Linked DNA regions of Homo sapiens: region 1 is linked to region 2. A link means that fine-mapping ties the variant in region 2 to the expression of a gene that starts in the linked region. Tissue or cell type: cerebellum. Region 2 holds a variant in brackets; the other region holds the start of a gene. All regions are shown on one strand. Distances are between the middles of the regions. Region 1 holds the start of FAM124A (family with sequence similarity 124 member A). Region 2 overlaps FAM124A (family with sequence similarity 124 member A).

Evidence for each region.
Region 1: it holds the start of FAM124A, and the variant in region 2 is fine-mapped to the expression of FAM124A in cerebellum (GTEx, PIP 0.97).

The regions. Positions count from the first base shown.
Region 1 is chr13:51,217,570-51,225,902 of GRCh38, reverse strand. FAM124A (family with sequence similarity 124 member A) reads right to left here and starts at 3,505. Exons shown (of 4, transcript NM_001242312.2): 1 at 3,334-3,505. The coding sequence starts at 3,401. RefSeq lists silencers at 3,557-3,616, 3,737-3,786 and an enhancer at 3,567-4,357.
Region 2 is chr13:51,238,575-51,246,907 of GRCh38, reverse strand. All of the region lies in intron 2 of FAM124A (family with sequence similarity 124 member A), which reads right to left. Among named protein-coding and RNA genes, the nearest start is that of FAM124A, 20 kb to the right of the region's middle. RefSeq lists enhancers at 2,578-3,166, 3,167-3,756. The variant C/T (reference allele first, on the strand shown) is at 3,901.

The sequences.
Region 1 (8,333 bases), 21 kb after region 2:
TATCACACTGATTGCTCAATTAGCACCTATATTTAAGAAATCTTTCTTCACTCCACTCTCCCCTTTAGCTACTGCCTCTTTTTGCCTCTCCTTTTTCCAGACAAAGGAATCCACCTGTCTCCTTTTCTTCACCTTCTACTGCCTTCTAGAGCCACTCTAATCTGGCTCCTGCCTCCACCACCCCGCTGTGAAATACCACTCTTCCTTCACTTCATCATCTCCATTTAAAAAAGACATTTAGCGTTCCTCATCTTCATTAGTTTCTCAGTAGCATAGTTGATCTCTCCTTCCTTTCTCAAAAACTCAAACCTCCCTTGGCTTCAATGATTCATATTCTTCTTTCTTTGACTCCAAGTCTACTCTTTCTCAGGCTCCTTTATCAGCTCATTCTCATTGACTGGGCGTTTAAATATAGTTTCTCAAGGCTGGTCTTAAAAAGCACCTGCTGCACAGAGTTGTTGAAGGATTCGAGGAGTCCATGAAATACATAAAGGCTTAGAACAGTAGGTGGCACATACTAAATGCTAAGAAAGTGCTTGCTATTACCTTCAGTTGATTTAGTCTCTCCCAGAGCTTCCATTGCCATTTTTAGGTAAATAGTACCCAAATGCAATGTCATCATGAAGACCTCCCTTCTGAGTTCCAGACAGATATACCCAACTGCTGATTCATCATCTTTACTTGGATGTCTTGCAACACCTCAGACACAGTGTGTTGAAAATGAAATGTCTCATATCTTGCCCAAACTTGGTTTGGAATAGATCACCAGCTACTTTGAGAATCTGATAAAAAAAAAAAGTTCTCTTCTCATACAAATTCACAAAGCACATCATTTTGCATACAACTTGAAGGAATTCATGGACCCCAAATTAAGGATCACTGCCTTAGCAGATGTGTCACTTGAGCTGAGTCCTGAAAGAAGAGTAGAGTTTCACCTGGCAGACAGGCAAGTCAGGTGGGAAGGGCAGAGCTGGCAAAGAGGGCAGCTTGACAAAGGCGAGGAAACAGAAAAATACAAGGCGCAAAGAAGGACCTGCTGAGAAACAAGGCCAGGGAGGGAAGAAGGGACTCCATAACAGGAGTCAGGGCATATAGGCCACGTTAAATTCCTTGCATTTGTAGATAACAGAGCCATAAAAGTTTGAAAGGGAGAGACATGATCAGATTTGCATTTTAAAAATACTAACGATAGCAAACACTTGTTGTCTTCTATGTGCTTTCTACATAATCTCTGTGAAAGCTGGATAGGGTAAGGGGTGGGGGCAAGCTCTGGAAAAGCAGGGAAACGATGAACAGCTTTTTGATAACTGAAATTCAAGGGCTCTGTGAATATATGGCAAACACAAAACTAATTAGCATACATTGAAATGCATGCTATTTTACCTTTAGCTTAAGGATACTAGTGATACAGTAAGAATTCCTTTTTTTTTGGAGATGGAGTTTTGCTCTTGTTGCCCATGCTGGAGTGCAATGGCGTGATCTCAGCTCATGGCAACCTCCGCCTCCCGGGTTCAAGCGATTCTCCTGCCTCAGCCTCCCGAGTAGCTGGGATTACAGGCATGCGCCACCACACCTGGCTAATTCTGTATATTTTTTAGTAGGGATGAGGTTTCTCCATGTTGGCCAGGCTGGTCTCAAACTCCCGACCTCAGGTGATCCGCCCACCTCGGCCACCCAAAGTGCTGGGATTATAGGCGCGAGCTACCGCACCTGGCCAAGAATTCTTTAAACAATTCTGTCCTGTTACAACTACACATTTTAGTGACAGAGGCTGAGAACAGAAGCTCTGGTGTCAGCAGGAGTGGGGAGCCCCTCCCAGGAGGCCTGGCCGCTGTCATGCTGATGTCCAGATCCTGGGGCGATGTCACCCCCTGGGTCCAGGACTTCCTCTCCCTTCTCTAAGACAGAGCCCTTGAAAAAAATATCAGTTTTAGGTGAGTTCTGCAAATTGAAAATGAATAGACTAGTGAATGCTTTATTTAACGCAGTTACAAATAAGCTGGTTAATTTTGCTTTGTTTCTTCTATTCATGGTCCAGCTAACTAATGGCAGAAAAAAAAAGCCAATAATCTTGTTAAAGTTGATAAATGCCACTTACACAAAGAGTGGGAAGAAGAAAGGAAGTTTGGCATTTAGCATCAGGTTACTCCACCAGATTATAATTGGGTGCTGTAGAGAGCTATGAATAAGTTTGGATAACAGAGAAAGCCCATTGCTGGGTGAATGCCCTAGGGAGTAAAGTCCCGCATTTGGGCTAGGAGTGGTGGGGCAGGAGGGGCCCTGTGGGGAGCTTTGCCGGGGTTGGGTTAGAACTCTGGGTCGATCGTGGGCCTGGATTCTCTACCTGCCCTCACAGGGTTGCCAAATCCTGAGATTAGTCTAAAACCTCTCCGACCTTCCAGGAATGAGGCTTTCTGTAGTCTAGGCAGCTCCCGCCCTCCCCCAGGATTACTCCAGATAGGAAAAAACACCCTTTCCTCCTGGGTCAGTACCCGCGGCCTGGATGTGGTGCTGACTCTGCACAGGAAAGTCCTTTAGAGACAGAGGCTGCCTGGAAGCCTTTATAACGACATTCATCTCCTAAAAGGCATTTTGTCTTTTCTTCCGCTCAGGAAAACAGTGTTTGGAGACTAACTAATTAGTCTCCAAAGGTTTGAGCCCATTGTTTGAGTCCGCTGAAGCGAAGAGAATATTAAAAAAAAAAAAAGGCAGGGCTAGATCCTAATCCCAACACCATCTCCATCCCGCCGGTACAACAGGCCAAAGGGTCCAGCTGGGACAGGTGCACTTAGAGGTGAGGAAGTTCGGCGGGACTGGAGGAGTCGGGGAGGGGGACTCGGCAGCACAGATTAAAGTCCCACGATGAAGCCATATAACGAGAAATGCCATCCTCCTAGCCGACTTCGGAAAGACTTTTAGGTGCGGGTGTCCCACCCTGCTTTTCTTCCTCTCCCGATCTCCAGGGCCGGACTCCAGGGGGCTCCGGAGCTACAGGAGGAAAGTCCCCGAGGAAGGAGGAAACAAGTGCAAGAGCATCTCCTGTCTCTAGCGATGCAGACAAGGGGTCTTTGCATCCGCCTGGCGCTCTGCATCGCCTCACAGGATGGGTGGGCTTGCACTGAACCTTGAGTCCTTCCACTTTCCTCCCCCCGGGTGGTGCCCGCCCTGCCCAGGGCAGCGCGGCCCGCCCAGGAGAGAGCGGGGGATCCGGCAGGAGGAGAAGCCCCGCGCCCCGGTCCCGTCGCACGGATCAGGAGGGTCCCCGTCCGGGGAGGAGCCGCCGCGCAACTCGGAGAGCGCCCCCCGCCCGCGGCCCGGCCCGGCGCGGCTCACCCTCCGGTCTCGGCGCCCGAGTCCACGCAGTCGTCCTCCTCGCCGCCGCCGCCCGCCTTTGGGTCCATGGTGCACGTCCCGGCCGCGCTCGGCTTGCGGGCGCCGTCGTGACCCGGGGCGCCCTCCCTCCCGGCCGCCCAGTCCGAGCCGGCCGGGCTCCCTCCGAGCGTCTGGCGGCCCGGGAGCCGGCAAACAACTCAAGCGCCAGCCGCGAACCCCGCGCCGCGCCCTCTCCCGACCGCGCCCGGCTGGGCACCCGCGCCTGCGCCCGCGCCCGCCCCGCCCCTCGCCGTCCGGCGGGACCCGCGTGTGCGCGCGGCGGTGCGCGGGGAGTGCGCGTGCGAGCGCGTGTGCGAGCGCGTGGGGGGCGTGTGAGCGTGAGTGGCCGAGGTGTGTGGTCTCACACCCGTGCGTCTGTGCATGCGGTGTGATGTGGGTGCGGTGTGCACTCCTGGTTGCACGCGACTGTGGCTGTGCTGAGCGCGTGTGCCCGTCTGTGGTGCGTGACCGCGTGTGTGTTGTGGGGGCGGGGTAAGTGTGCACACGAGAGCCGCCTCTCTCCCCCAGGCCCACAGTCCGGGAATCCCGAGCCCCAGGGCTTGCCACGAGGTTCCCCACCTCCTGATCTGGGAGGAGCACTGAGAAAACCAACCTCAGCGCATCGTGAAAGCTGGGAAGGATTTGTTTCCCTTTTGGGACCAATTCGAACACCTGGGTGTTTTCTTATAGTTTCTGAAGAATTGCTGACGCCAAATTCATTATCACCTTTCTCAGTACACGTCTGAGCGGCATCCCACCCCCTCAACTTGCCAGTTTACAATAGGTGTCATGCATTCTTTTGCTACTTAAAAAAAAAAAAGCCTTTAAAAATAATTTAAAGAGCATTGAATGAACCTGCAATTCACGGGTTGTTGCAGCAAGGGGATAACCTTAGGGTGAGTTAATGATCGCTATTGGAGGGGCTCACCTCCTATTAGGAGGGTGAAGAGGGAGGCAAGTTGGCAGGGCGGGCGGAAGGAGACTTCGAACAACTTGAATTTAGTTCTGACAGCCCTATCCAAACCATTGGGAGGAATTGTCCTTACTGAGCCTAAAATTTCTTGCACCCCAAACAGCAATGGACATATTGGTGGGCATTAGCTGAAAGAAAGGAGCGTGCCAGTTCTTCAAGGGAGATTCCCCTGCCCATTTTTTATCTTGCAGCCAGGAGGGAACCTGCCTTTATTTACTCTGTGTGGGAACAATTCAAACTGTGCCTCATTTGATCCTCAGGGAAGTGCTGTGAAACAGGCTTACTTTTCTATTTTACCGTCAAGGAAACTAAACCCTACCGAGTTCGAGTGCCTGGTCCCAGGACACCCTATCAGTGAGCAGGGAAGCCAGGTAGTCCACTTAAGGTAGCTGGAGCCTGTGCCACTTACCTAGAAGGCTGATGAGTGGGCCAGTTGTATCCTCAGGAAGATGGTACTAAGGAAAAGGCCAGGGAAGAAAGGGTGAAATCAGCATGACTTTTAGAAGATGGGCTTTGGAAAATGAGATGCTATTTAAATGATTTCTGCCTTTCTCAAATATCCAGAGAAAGGGCATGCCAGACCAAAACCTCAAGCCACATCTCAAAATGATGCATGGATTCAGGTTCCCCTCGCCCACAGGGGACACAGTGTTATCATTCATCATTGGCATAGCAGTCTAATGGCAACTCAGTGATGCATTTATTATATGGAAGAGAAGCTTGAACGGTATCACTGTATTCTAGTGATGCATGGCTTTCTGCTTCAGTTCCCAGGTTTTAAAAGCCTCACTTCATTTTTTGCTTGTTTGTTTGAGACAGGGTCTTACTCTGTTGCCCAGGCTAGAGTACAGTGGCACAATCACAGCTCACTACAGCCTCCACCTCCCTGATTCAAGTGATCCTCCCAGCCTCCTGAGTAGCTGGGACTACAGGCGTGCCACCATGCCCAGCTGAGTTTTAATTTTTTTGTAGAGAAAAATATGTTGCCTAGGCTGGTCTCGAACTCCTGGCCTCAAGTGATCCTCCTGCCTCGGCCTCTCAAAGTGCTGGGACTATAGGCATGAGGCATTGCACCTGGCCCATTTTTTGGGAGGGCGGGGTATAAGAGTTGCTGGCAGGTAACCAGCACAAGAACCTTCAAGTGATCACTGCAGGGTATCTAGCCCCTAAACTTACATGGTTCCCACACTCCATAGTCCAGCTGTTTAATGTCAGTCTCTTTAATCATGGGGGTACGATGCTCTCCTCCACCCCTTTAAGATGGGGACAGAAAAGTGTCACTGGTCTGCTTAGGGTGTCTTGACTGCTGCCCTAAAGATATTCCTATCAGAGCCTGAGAACAGTGTTGGGGGAATACTGAGGTATGGCAGGAAGTGTAACAGGCTAGGAAACATGAAACCTGACTTCTGGATCGGAATCCATCATGTACTAGTTCTTTAAACTCTCGATAGAGAAAAAGGATAGACCATCAACTGTTTCCAAAGTTCTTACTACATGTCAGTCTTTGTGGTAAGGATTTTACATACATGATTTATTTAAATCTCACAAAATTCTTGTGAGGCTTCCTTTGTCCTTAAAATGGGGTTGTTGATATAAATCTCACAGGAGATTCAAAGCCCCTTAGAAACTACGAAGCATATGAATAAAAGATATTGCTGATTTTTTAATCACTTTTTCTCAGAAAGGTCTGAACATCAATCTTTTGTTGTATTTCACCTATAAAGCATGTTTCAGTCTCTGTTTATATTATTGCATGTGTTGGTGTGTTAGAAAACAAGGCAGTTCATTCATTTATTTATTGAACACTCAGTGTGTACTAGGCAGGGGCTGGTGCTGGGGATATGTTGAGGAATAGGCCAGAGCTATTTTCTGGCCTAATGGAGCTTTTTGGGTCAAGAGAAGGCAAGGCCAATGGGCATGGCTGGCCTTCCCACCAGGCACCTGAGAGGTATGTAGTGCCATCAGCCATTAGAATAGGACTGGAATGCCAAAGCCCTGTCTTGGAGGAAAAAACTTAAGATAATCGGATGGTAAATAGAGTCCATCAACTTTGCTGATGAAAGAGATGGATTAGTAATTAAGAAGGCCAAGAGTAATTGGGAGGGGGCCAAAAAAAGAGGAGCTAAGTAGCTTTAAGATAAGAACTTTACAGCAAGAGACTGAAAACAGATAAAAATAAATATCTCCAGAACATAGAATTTGCCCAGATTTGGATTTCAGTTTAGAGGGAAGCTAGGCCACTTTCATTGCATCTGTACCATTTGCTATTAGGCGAGCTTGATTTAGTCCCTTAAGTAAAATATTTGTTAGGGTTATCCAGTAGCAAATAGAACCAGAAAATATATTGGTCTGGAAACTTTTGCTCATTCATTTTAATTAATTAATTACTTTTTGAAAACACATTTCCCAGAAACAAAAATTACAGGTTAAAGAATGACATTAAAATTAAAAAAAAAGAAATCTCTTTCTTCCAAGACTCCAGAAGAGTCTGTCTAATGTGAAAAATAAATATTATGATCATGAGAAGAAAATTTATAAACTATTGACAAATCTACTTAGACAAAGAAAGCCACTAGCCCTACATGCAAACATAAGGGGACCAGATGGCAAAGGGATAAATGAAATGAAAGATAAACTGTTGTGTTGGGAAATAATCTCATTAAAATATAAATGACTCCACTTTGATAAGGAAGAGCACAGATAGTGGTCCTGCCTTGGAGGCTTCCCAAGAATTCTCAGCCTGCAGTTTATACCCGGACGAGATCTGGAGTCCAAGTCAGACATCAGACCACCCACCCACTGTGACCCCCAACAACTGGTGGGTGGGTGGGCGTAAAATGAGATGGGAATGTGAAAGGCTGGCTTCCGGAAATGTGCTGTGGAAATTTAAGAATCAAAGGGAACCTTAGACTCAGGGCACTGCCCTCCAGTCCCCCGTGAATAGACACGCCTCCTGGGAACTGTGGCTAAGTCACCCATTTATGGTTCTACGAATAACCTAGGCTTGGAAAGCTTTGGCCTTCCGTCCACTTTCATCCTGACACTTTCCTTCAGGCACCTGGTCCTCCCCAGCTCCAACGGCCTGATAGTCAGCTTGGCCTGCCATTACAAAGTACCACAGACAGCATGGCTTCAACAATAGAAGTTGATTTCGTCACAGTTCTGGAGGCTGGAGGTAGAAGATCATGGTGTCAGCAGGATAGGTTTCTTTGGAGGCCTCTCCTTGGCTTGCAGACGGCTGCCTTCTTGCTGTATCTTTCTTCTATCTGTGTGCATCCTTGGGTCTCTTTGTGTGTCCATATTTCCTTTTCTTGTAAATTAAACAGTCAGATTAGATGAAGACCAACTCTAATGGCCTCTTTGTAACTGAATCACTTTCTTTCTTTCTTTCTTTCTTTCTTTCTTTCTTTCTTTCTTTCTTTCTTTCTTTCTTTCTTCTGTCTCTCTCTCTCTCTCTCTTTCTTTCTTTTTTTTTTTGAGATGGAGTCTCGCTCTGTCGCCAGGCTGGAGTGCAGTGGCACAATCTTGGCTCACTGCAACCTCCACCTTCCGGGTTCAAGCGATTCTTCTGCCTCAGGCTCCCGAGTAGCCGGGACTACAGGTGTGCACCACCACACACAGATAATTTTTGTATTTTTAGTAGAGACGGGGTTTCACCATGTTGGCCAGGATGGTCACGATCTCTTGACCTTGTGATCTGCCCACCTTGGTCTCCCAAAGTGCTGGGATTACAGGCATGAGCCACCACGCCCAGCCCTGAATCACTTCTTTAAAGACCCTGTCTCAAAATACAGTCGCATTCTGAGGTACTGGGGATTAGGATATTACCACATTAATTTTGGCGGACACAATTCGACTCATAACACTGCCTTTGAAGCCATATCATGTGGGAGGCAGGATCTTATCATGGGTAAGACTGAGTTTCTCTCCAGCCACAGTGCACAAGCCCAAGTCTTCCCTCTCCCTCTATCACCTGCTAGGCTTGTGA
Region 2 (8,333 bases):
AGGCTTGGGTGTGAAGAGGCCCGGGAGAAGGTGGCTTCTGAGACTCTCCAGTGGAGCTGTCAGGGCGCTCAGCCCTGTGCCATCTCTATCAGTTACACAAAGGTTTCCCTGAGAGCAGTAACAAAGACCATGCTGAAGTCTGCATGGATGAGTGAATGTTTACAGCTCTGCAGAAGGGCGAAATGCCCGGCCTCAGAGCAGGGGGGTGAGCTGAAAGGCATTCCACCAAGTACCAGCTCGCCTGGCAGTTTGGGAGGCAGCCAAGAGCAGGCGAGCCAGGATGACGAAGACCCGACCCCCAGAGCCCCCTCTGCACTGCCTGAACCAGGGACATGTAAGTGGCTAAGACCCTGCCCCAGAAGAGCTAAGGAGAATGAGCAGTGGCATTAGCATGCTCTGGCCATCACTAGCACGTACCCGCTGCACATGACCTGAAAACACAAGCAAAGAACACAGAACGCAGCTTCAAGCTGTCATCAGGTGTTAGAGTTACACCCCCCCCCACCCCACGAGAAACATGCCTCTGTGGAGCTGGATAGGAAACCAAGCATTTGAGGGGAAGGACAGAAAATGTGAATAATTAATTGCCACGAAAAGTCTCTATGCCTCCCTGGAGAAACACAGACGACATGACTGTGGGATGTGCTCTGCCTTTATCATATCTATTACATGTCTTCTCAAAGGACCTAGCGAGCACCTGTTGAATTATGGTAAAACACAGACCAGAACCAAACAGAGCAGTGGCACAGACTGCCCCAAGGCTGGTGGGAGGATGGGAGCTGCTAGCACACCATTAACAAGGCTTTCAAATTAGTTTGTGTTTTCCTAAGGAGAAGGGAGATTCTTTTTCATTTGATTATAGACAATTAGGCTTTCCTTTGATAACACAAAATGAAAACAGTGTTAAAGAAAGCAGTGTACAAGCTCAGGCCTTCTATGATGCAGAAAGTGTACTATTAGCCTGGGCATTTGTTATATATATATTTTTTCCAACATTTTACCTCTCCTGTGTATCCTGTTTCTGGCCATTTAAATTTAACAGAAAATTAATTTAGACAATAGCAACCATTTATTATGCTCTTATTATTTGCCAGACATTGTCCTACAAGCTTTATGTATACTATCTCATTTAATCTTTCATTTAAAGCAACACTATGATAGATGAACTACTAACTGACCTGCTCAAGACCATTTGCCTGGAGAACAGCAAGGGCTGTCTGAACCCCGGATCTGTGCTCCTCACCACTATGTCCTCTCACTACTCAAGGGCACAATCCTCGTGATACAGGAGATGGAAAGAAATTATTTAGGCACATAGTGAGTATAAAAGAGCCCTTAGCAGAATTTTGCTTTTAACAAAAAAGCAGCCCCCAAATCATTTCTTTTCTAACAAAGAGCAGTCTGAAAATTCGAGCTGTAGATGTAGATAAGCAAGCTGGAAGCTTGCACAGATGAATGCCGGAAGCTGCGCCAATAGAAAAGGGCTACCTGAGGGCCAGGTATGTTCAACCTGGAGGCTCCATCTTCCCTTTTCTTTGTCACCGTGTGTACAGTAAAGGAACAGGCAACATGGCATCCGCCAGGTGGAGAATCCATCTGCATAATAAAAGATTAAAGTGGGGGGCGGCCAGATTTTCACATGCTGTGCAAATGGCACACCTAGTCCTAACCAGTTTTTTGCATCTTATGCAAATGGCACACCTGGTCCGACCAATCTTTTGTGCCCTATGTAAATCAGACACCACCTCCTCAAGCTCATCTACACAACCCTAAGTATTTTGTGGCAGACCAGACACCTGCTTGGGAGCCCTCTCTCTGCAGGAGATAGCCTTTCTCTTTCTTTCGCTTATTAAAGCTCTGCTCTTAATCTCACTCCTTGTGTGTCCACATCCTTGATTTCCTTGGCAGAAGACAACAAACCTCGGGTATTATCCCAGATGAACGATGCCACTTCACTTGGAATCATCGCGTTGGTTTTTCTGCCCCAAATTGGCTGGGGCTCTGAAATCATGGCTTAGCTCCTTCACCCACCTTAGGTGGGAGAGCCTGCTGTGAATGGGCTGGCTGTTTCGCCTGGGTGGGCATCCTCAGCTGGAGTCTTCGGAAGAAGAGGGCAGTCTGCCTGTTGACAGACTTCCGGGTGCTGGACCTACCTCAATGCTGCTTGCGCCAGGGCCCCTCACAACCACTCTCTGCAGTCTTGGGCTTTAGATCAGCCATGCCTGCACTGCTTGCCCGGTGCCTGCCAGACTAGCCCTCCTCCCAGAACTGGCCAACTGGTGTGTCCCCAGAGCACCCCCTCCCCAGCAGTGGGCATGTCTAGTTGAAGAGATCTCTCATTCCAAAAGAACTTCCTGGACAAGTCTCAGGATATGACAAGCTCAGGTACCCCTTTCTAGAATTTTTGGGCAACGATTAATATGATTGTCACTTTAGACACAATTTGTCACTGACAATTTGCAATTTAGTTTCATCATTTATTTAATCAAAGAATGTTTACTGAACACCCACCATGTGCCAGGCACTAGAGGATACAGTGGTGAATAAAACAGTCTCTGCCTTCAGAGAGCTTATAATCTAGTGAGGGAGACAGACAATAAACAAATATATAAGATGTAAGCCGGGTAGCTAAGTCCTACAGACAGACACTTCACTGAACACACACATGCTCAACGTGGTTTCCAAGGCAGTGGCTGTAACAATTTACCATTGACGGAATAAACTGCTGTGCGCCATTCCAGTGCCAAAATTACTGCCAACACTGCAGTGCCCAGTAATCCCCGACGAGGCCAACAGACTGTGAAGGAGGGCACCTCCAGCTGTTGCAGGTTGTTTGGTTTAGGAATCTGGCCCTGGAGCCTGGCTTGAGAGCTGCATAAGGTTGAATAAACACTTATTTGCATTTCTAAAGCCCCCATCAACGGCACTGAGTGGCTTGGGGGCTGGGATACTGGTCTGCCAACCAGACCCACATGATCCAGTGGCAGAAAACTCAGGTGAGACGGTGCGTCACACACACAACAAAGACATGTCCAGGGCACCGGCTGACACTGTGAATAAAGACCAGATCTGGGCTGGGCGTGGTGGCTGAAGCCTGTAATCCCAGCATTTTCGGAGATCGAGGCAGGTGGATCACCTGAGGTTAGGAGTTCAAGACCAGCCTGGGCAACATGGTGAAACCCCGTCTCTACTAAAAATACAAAAAAATTAGCCGGGTGTGGTGGCGGGCGCCTGTAGTCCCAGATACTTGGGAGGCTGAGTCAGGAGAATCACTTGAACCCTGGAGGTAGTGGTTGCAGTAAGCTGAGATCACACCATTGCACCCCAGCCTGGGCAATAAGGGCAAAACTCTGTCTCAAAACAAACAAACAAACAAAAAAAACCAACAACCAGGTCTGAAAGCAGGAGGGAAAAAGGCTCTGGGTGACGCTGAACACAAAACTTGCAGAGGGCTAGCCTCCCCACATTGAGGCATTCCCCAGAACGCCAGAAACAAATGCCTTCAGAAAGGGGCCTCCAAATTCCTTCCTGGGAGACGCTATTCATCCGGAATGTAATGAATAACCTGCCTTCATCTCTTTTTTTCATAGTTTTAGAAGCCAGTTCTTTGAAACTTTGAACTAATGAAAAATGTGTAAGCAACTCCCTTACTCCACCAATATTTAAGACAAAATCTCAGACTTTGTTCTTGGTAATTTTGTAATTTTGACAAGGCCTGTTGGCCTGCAATTTTGGGCTGTGAAAGTGGCGAGACTGGTTGCAGTGCTGGAAATAATGACCTGTGGTGGCAGTGAAGTGACATATAGGATTTTTAACATGGAGATCCAAACTGCATTTATAATATAGATCATAAGGTTCTTCCTCAGCCTGATTTCACAGAAGTGTCCTGTAATTGAAGAA[C/T]TGAACCTAGGCTGAAATGATTAAGCTAAAACTTATATTTTCATTTGGCAGAGGAGTACAATAAAGGATCTTTCTGGTCTATAGGCCCTCTCACGCTTTTATAAGAAGGGTGGCTTTGCTATAACAGTTATTCGACCGCCCTCTCATTTTTTTTATGATTTGCTGGAGGAACAATGTCAGCGATGTGGATGTCTAATTCATATTCCTGAGCTCATTCTAAAACCAGGACACTATTAAGAAAAAAATATATAGAAAGTAAGGCAGATACTTTAGATACCCTGCCGGTTTTTTTTTCCACTTGGAAATGGGACATCCATCTTACTTTAAATGTATTTCTAAGCTTCATTCAGGTCCATCATTCTGAAACATACTCTCCTGATAGGAAAAGGAGGGGGAGCAAAAGCCGGACACCAACCAAAGGAATGACAGACACTTTAAATCCTGATACAGCTTGACAGAGATTCTGGGAGAAGACCAGAAGGTTGATATGTAATTAGTTTGAGGAGGTATAACTGCAGCTAGAAACACTTAAACATATCTAGCATACGTGTGTAAGTCCCTGGGACTGCAAGGACTTTGAAAGTTTATGAGAAGTAATGCAGGCCTGACACCCAGCAATGTACCATGCTTAATGATGTACTAAGACTCCTCTTGCATAAAAATTTGACGGTTCAAAATGCCTGAAGAGGCTATAGCATTCTACACAGAGTCCTTTCTTCTACTCAGTAATTTTAATTCTCTCTAAACCACATTATGTGCTTGTCATTTGCATTTGCAGCAAAGTCATCCTGAGAAAGTCAGGATCTCAACAAATACTGGAGATCCAGAGATGACAGAGCAGGGCTTGGAAACAAGAGGAACAGAATTAATATTAATCTTGTATTAGGAAATGAAAGAAATCTACCAAAAAGAACAAAACAAAAAAGACAAAAGAGGAAGATGTTAGCCTAAGCCTATCCCAAGGATTTGTTCATCAGGAAACTCCAGGCCTCTGTCTTACACTAGAGCTCGTGGGAGGAATCCTTACAATTATATTAGTCAAGATTTATCTTAAAAAGGGACTTATTCTGGCAGGATATTGAGAAATCAGATGAATAATGATTAGCCGTTGCAACTCTTCTAAGAAAAGCCACTGCATATGTGCTTATAAAACACGTCCTGAACGCAGTAGATGCAGCAGTGACGAAATCCAGCACTGGCTTTGCTCATGATCAAACGAGCAATGTAGGAAGTGGATGGAGCCTGGGGACTCATTTTTTTTTTTTTGGCCTAAAATTCAGTGGAATATTCAAATATTTTGAAAATTTTAATATAACACTGACAAGTCTCCGGTACTTGTTTCTAAGTCTCCTTAGAAAATGTGTACTTTGGGCCCATTTGGAGAACAAACTTACTGGACATGACTAGAAAATTAAGGATGGGTAAGACAGTCAGTCCAGCCCCCTCATTTTACAGTTGGGGTCAGGCCACTTGTCAATGGTGGGTCTAGAAAGAGAACAAACATCTCCCAACTCCCAGTTCAGGGCTTTCTCCTTTATACCTCAGTGGCACCTAGTCCTGAAGTGCCTGCCCCAAGGACTCCAAGTAAGAGGAGACATAGCTTGTCCTTGCCTTTGTGCAGCTTAAAATCTAACTGAGAAGCCAAGACCTTCACACGTGACAAATGTAACAAAAATACAAATGGGAGATGATACATTCTAAATGACGCAGAGAATGGGATGCAGAAATAATAACCAAGTTTCCCTTTCCCACAGTTTTCTTAATCGCCTTGGGGCCCTCCACCTACAGAGTCCTGGCTGTTCACTGCTTCAGGGAGGATGGCAGCAGATAAACTTAGTAATTGAATTTCTGAAAATTTTGTTTTAACTCATAACAGAGGAAATGGTCTTGAAGGGCAAGGCTCTCTGTTGCAAGAGCTGGGCTTTTGGAGACAGAAAAGGCTTTCTGAGCCAGGAAAGGCTAAAAACCTAGAGCAGAGGGTTCACACTGTGAACCAGAAGGCAGAAGAACATGTGGGGCTGCAAGGGCAGCTTTTCCAGCTCAGATGCCAAGTTTGGGCTTCTGGTGGGAGGAAGACGACTGGAAGGAACTTGATGAAAATCTGTGTGCCAGAAGCGTTCTGAGAAAGGATCATGGATTGAACCTCTCCTGGGCTGAGCCCTGCAGGCATTGGGATCCCTGAGAAGAGCAGGACTGTGTCTTCACTTGTTAGGGGGTGAGGGCGGCAGCTCAAGATGAAGTTCAGCTCAATTATAGAGAAATAAAGCAGTACTGCTTTTATGTCTGAGTTGGTGACTGAAAATTCATACTCTTTATAATAGGAGCTTCTTATAGGAGTTCTCAATGAAGAGCAGAACGTGTTATAATCTAACAGATGGCGAGCCCTTCATCACACTGTCTCATAGAGAGACCTCTAACTTCCCAGTTCAGTCTATCTGTGGCCCTACATGTTTGAGCCTCACTCTCCTCAAGCCTGGGGCAATGAAATATTAAATATGGACTTGTAGAGAAAGGCCCAATTATCTCCATAATTGACAAAGGAAAGACGTCTTGCAACTACTGTTGTTACGAAAAGGAAAATCATTCTTCTAAGCACAGGTTGAACTGCTCAGCTTCACTTCCTTTGTGTGCCAATAATAACGTCAGAAGATGTCAGAGTCAGGTCAAAATAAAAAGGGGAGTGAGAGCATGTGGAACATTCCTTCCCTTCCCGAATCAGGTGATGTGCAAAATAGAAGTTTCACAAATGTGGAAGAAGGAGAGAAGGTTTAGAAAGAAGGAAGAATGATGGGATCATCTTAGTTTTCTTCGACTCTGAATTTTGTAACCTTGAAAGGATATGACTTGGCTTTTTGTATCATATTTTTCAGCTACTTCTAACTTGTTATACCATCAGCAGTTAAAGACAGCAGTATGGATGTTGAACAAAGATAGAAACTGTACTGGAGTGGAAAATATTTTCCATAAAGGCTGGACGGAGCACCAATGGCTTTGCTGTGGCTGTTACTGTAGTCCGAGGCTGGAGCAGGATTGTCATCAATACCACACTTCCAGTGAGGGCAGCAGAAAAGATTTCCCTGTGGTTCTCCAAAACCTGAAAGTCTCCCCGTTTATAACCGACTCCATAGAGTAATTTTGCTCATTGTTATTGTTTAAAAAACCTACTATCTATCTACATATGTATCTATCCAGATAATCTTTTGTGTACATAAAATCACAATTTTTATGACACTCTCATCCATGTCTGTGGGAGAGTGAAATGGCACCTTTGGAGAATACCCTAGCAATAGGGATCAAAAGCTTTAAAGAGTACAGTTTTTACCCCAGCAATTCCAATTGTAGGAGTTTTTTCTAATAAGGAAGGATATGCACAAAGACCTATTAGAAAGATGTTTTTGGCAATGCTGTTTACAGTAGTAAAACAGTGAATACAACCTATAGGACCAACAATAGTGAACTGGTGAATAAAGTACAGTGCAAAAATATAAGGGAATACTGTATGAATAGTCAAACTATTATAGAGATGAGTTTCCTGGCATATAAAGATGTTTGTACTATAGTTAGAAAATTAGACTATAAAACAAAATATACAATGCCATTTTTTAGTAAATTATTACCCAAAATGTTATATATCTACATAAATATATAGATGCTCAGAAAAAAATCCTACAAAGGCAGACACCAAATTATGTATAATGGTTGCTTCTGGATAGTAGGATTCTGGGTTTGCTTCTCTTTGCTAATCTGTATTCTCTGATTTTTCTGCAATGACTATGTATTATTTGGGTAGCAAAAAATTATTTTGAAATTGAGAAAAGCACCAGGCACATCAAGGTAAGGAGTAGTGGCAGTTATTCACTTTCGTTTCCTGTCTTGGGGGAAATCCTGATGATTCTGGTAGACCAGATATCCCTGAAGTACCACTTCAGCTTTTCAAGGGGGGAGAAAGTAGTCACGAGAAGTCTGCCTCCATTTTTCTTTCATATCCCGGATGGAAATCAACACCCTCTGTCGAGTTGAAGTCACACAACTAAAACTGACCTTTGAAACCAGAAGGACTACACCATATTTTTTTTGGAAATGGATGCCAGCGTAGCAAAGCATCAAAGGAGTTGTCTGTGTCATATACTGTCCTTACCCTGTGATTTCCTGATGCATATCTTTGGTTATTGCTTTTTTCTTATCAACTGTCAGATAGTTAATACTGCCTAGCTTTTCAGGCCCCCATTCAGAGGACTCTGAATATACAGGCCCCACACCATGAAATAACAATCTAATGGACTCACACGTTCAGCTTCAGTAGATTCCTTCATCTCAGAGGTTTCATTTGCCACTTCCATGGTCCAACAGGTAAGGCTGCTACCTGCTTCTCAGACAAACCCCAAACACACACCTCTACCCTCTTCATAAGGGATATATCCCGTGTTTTAGAA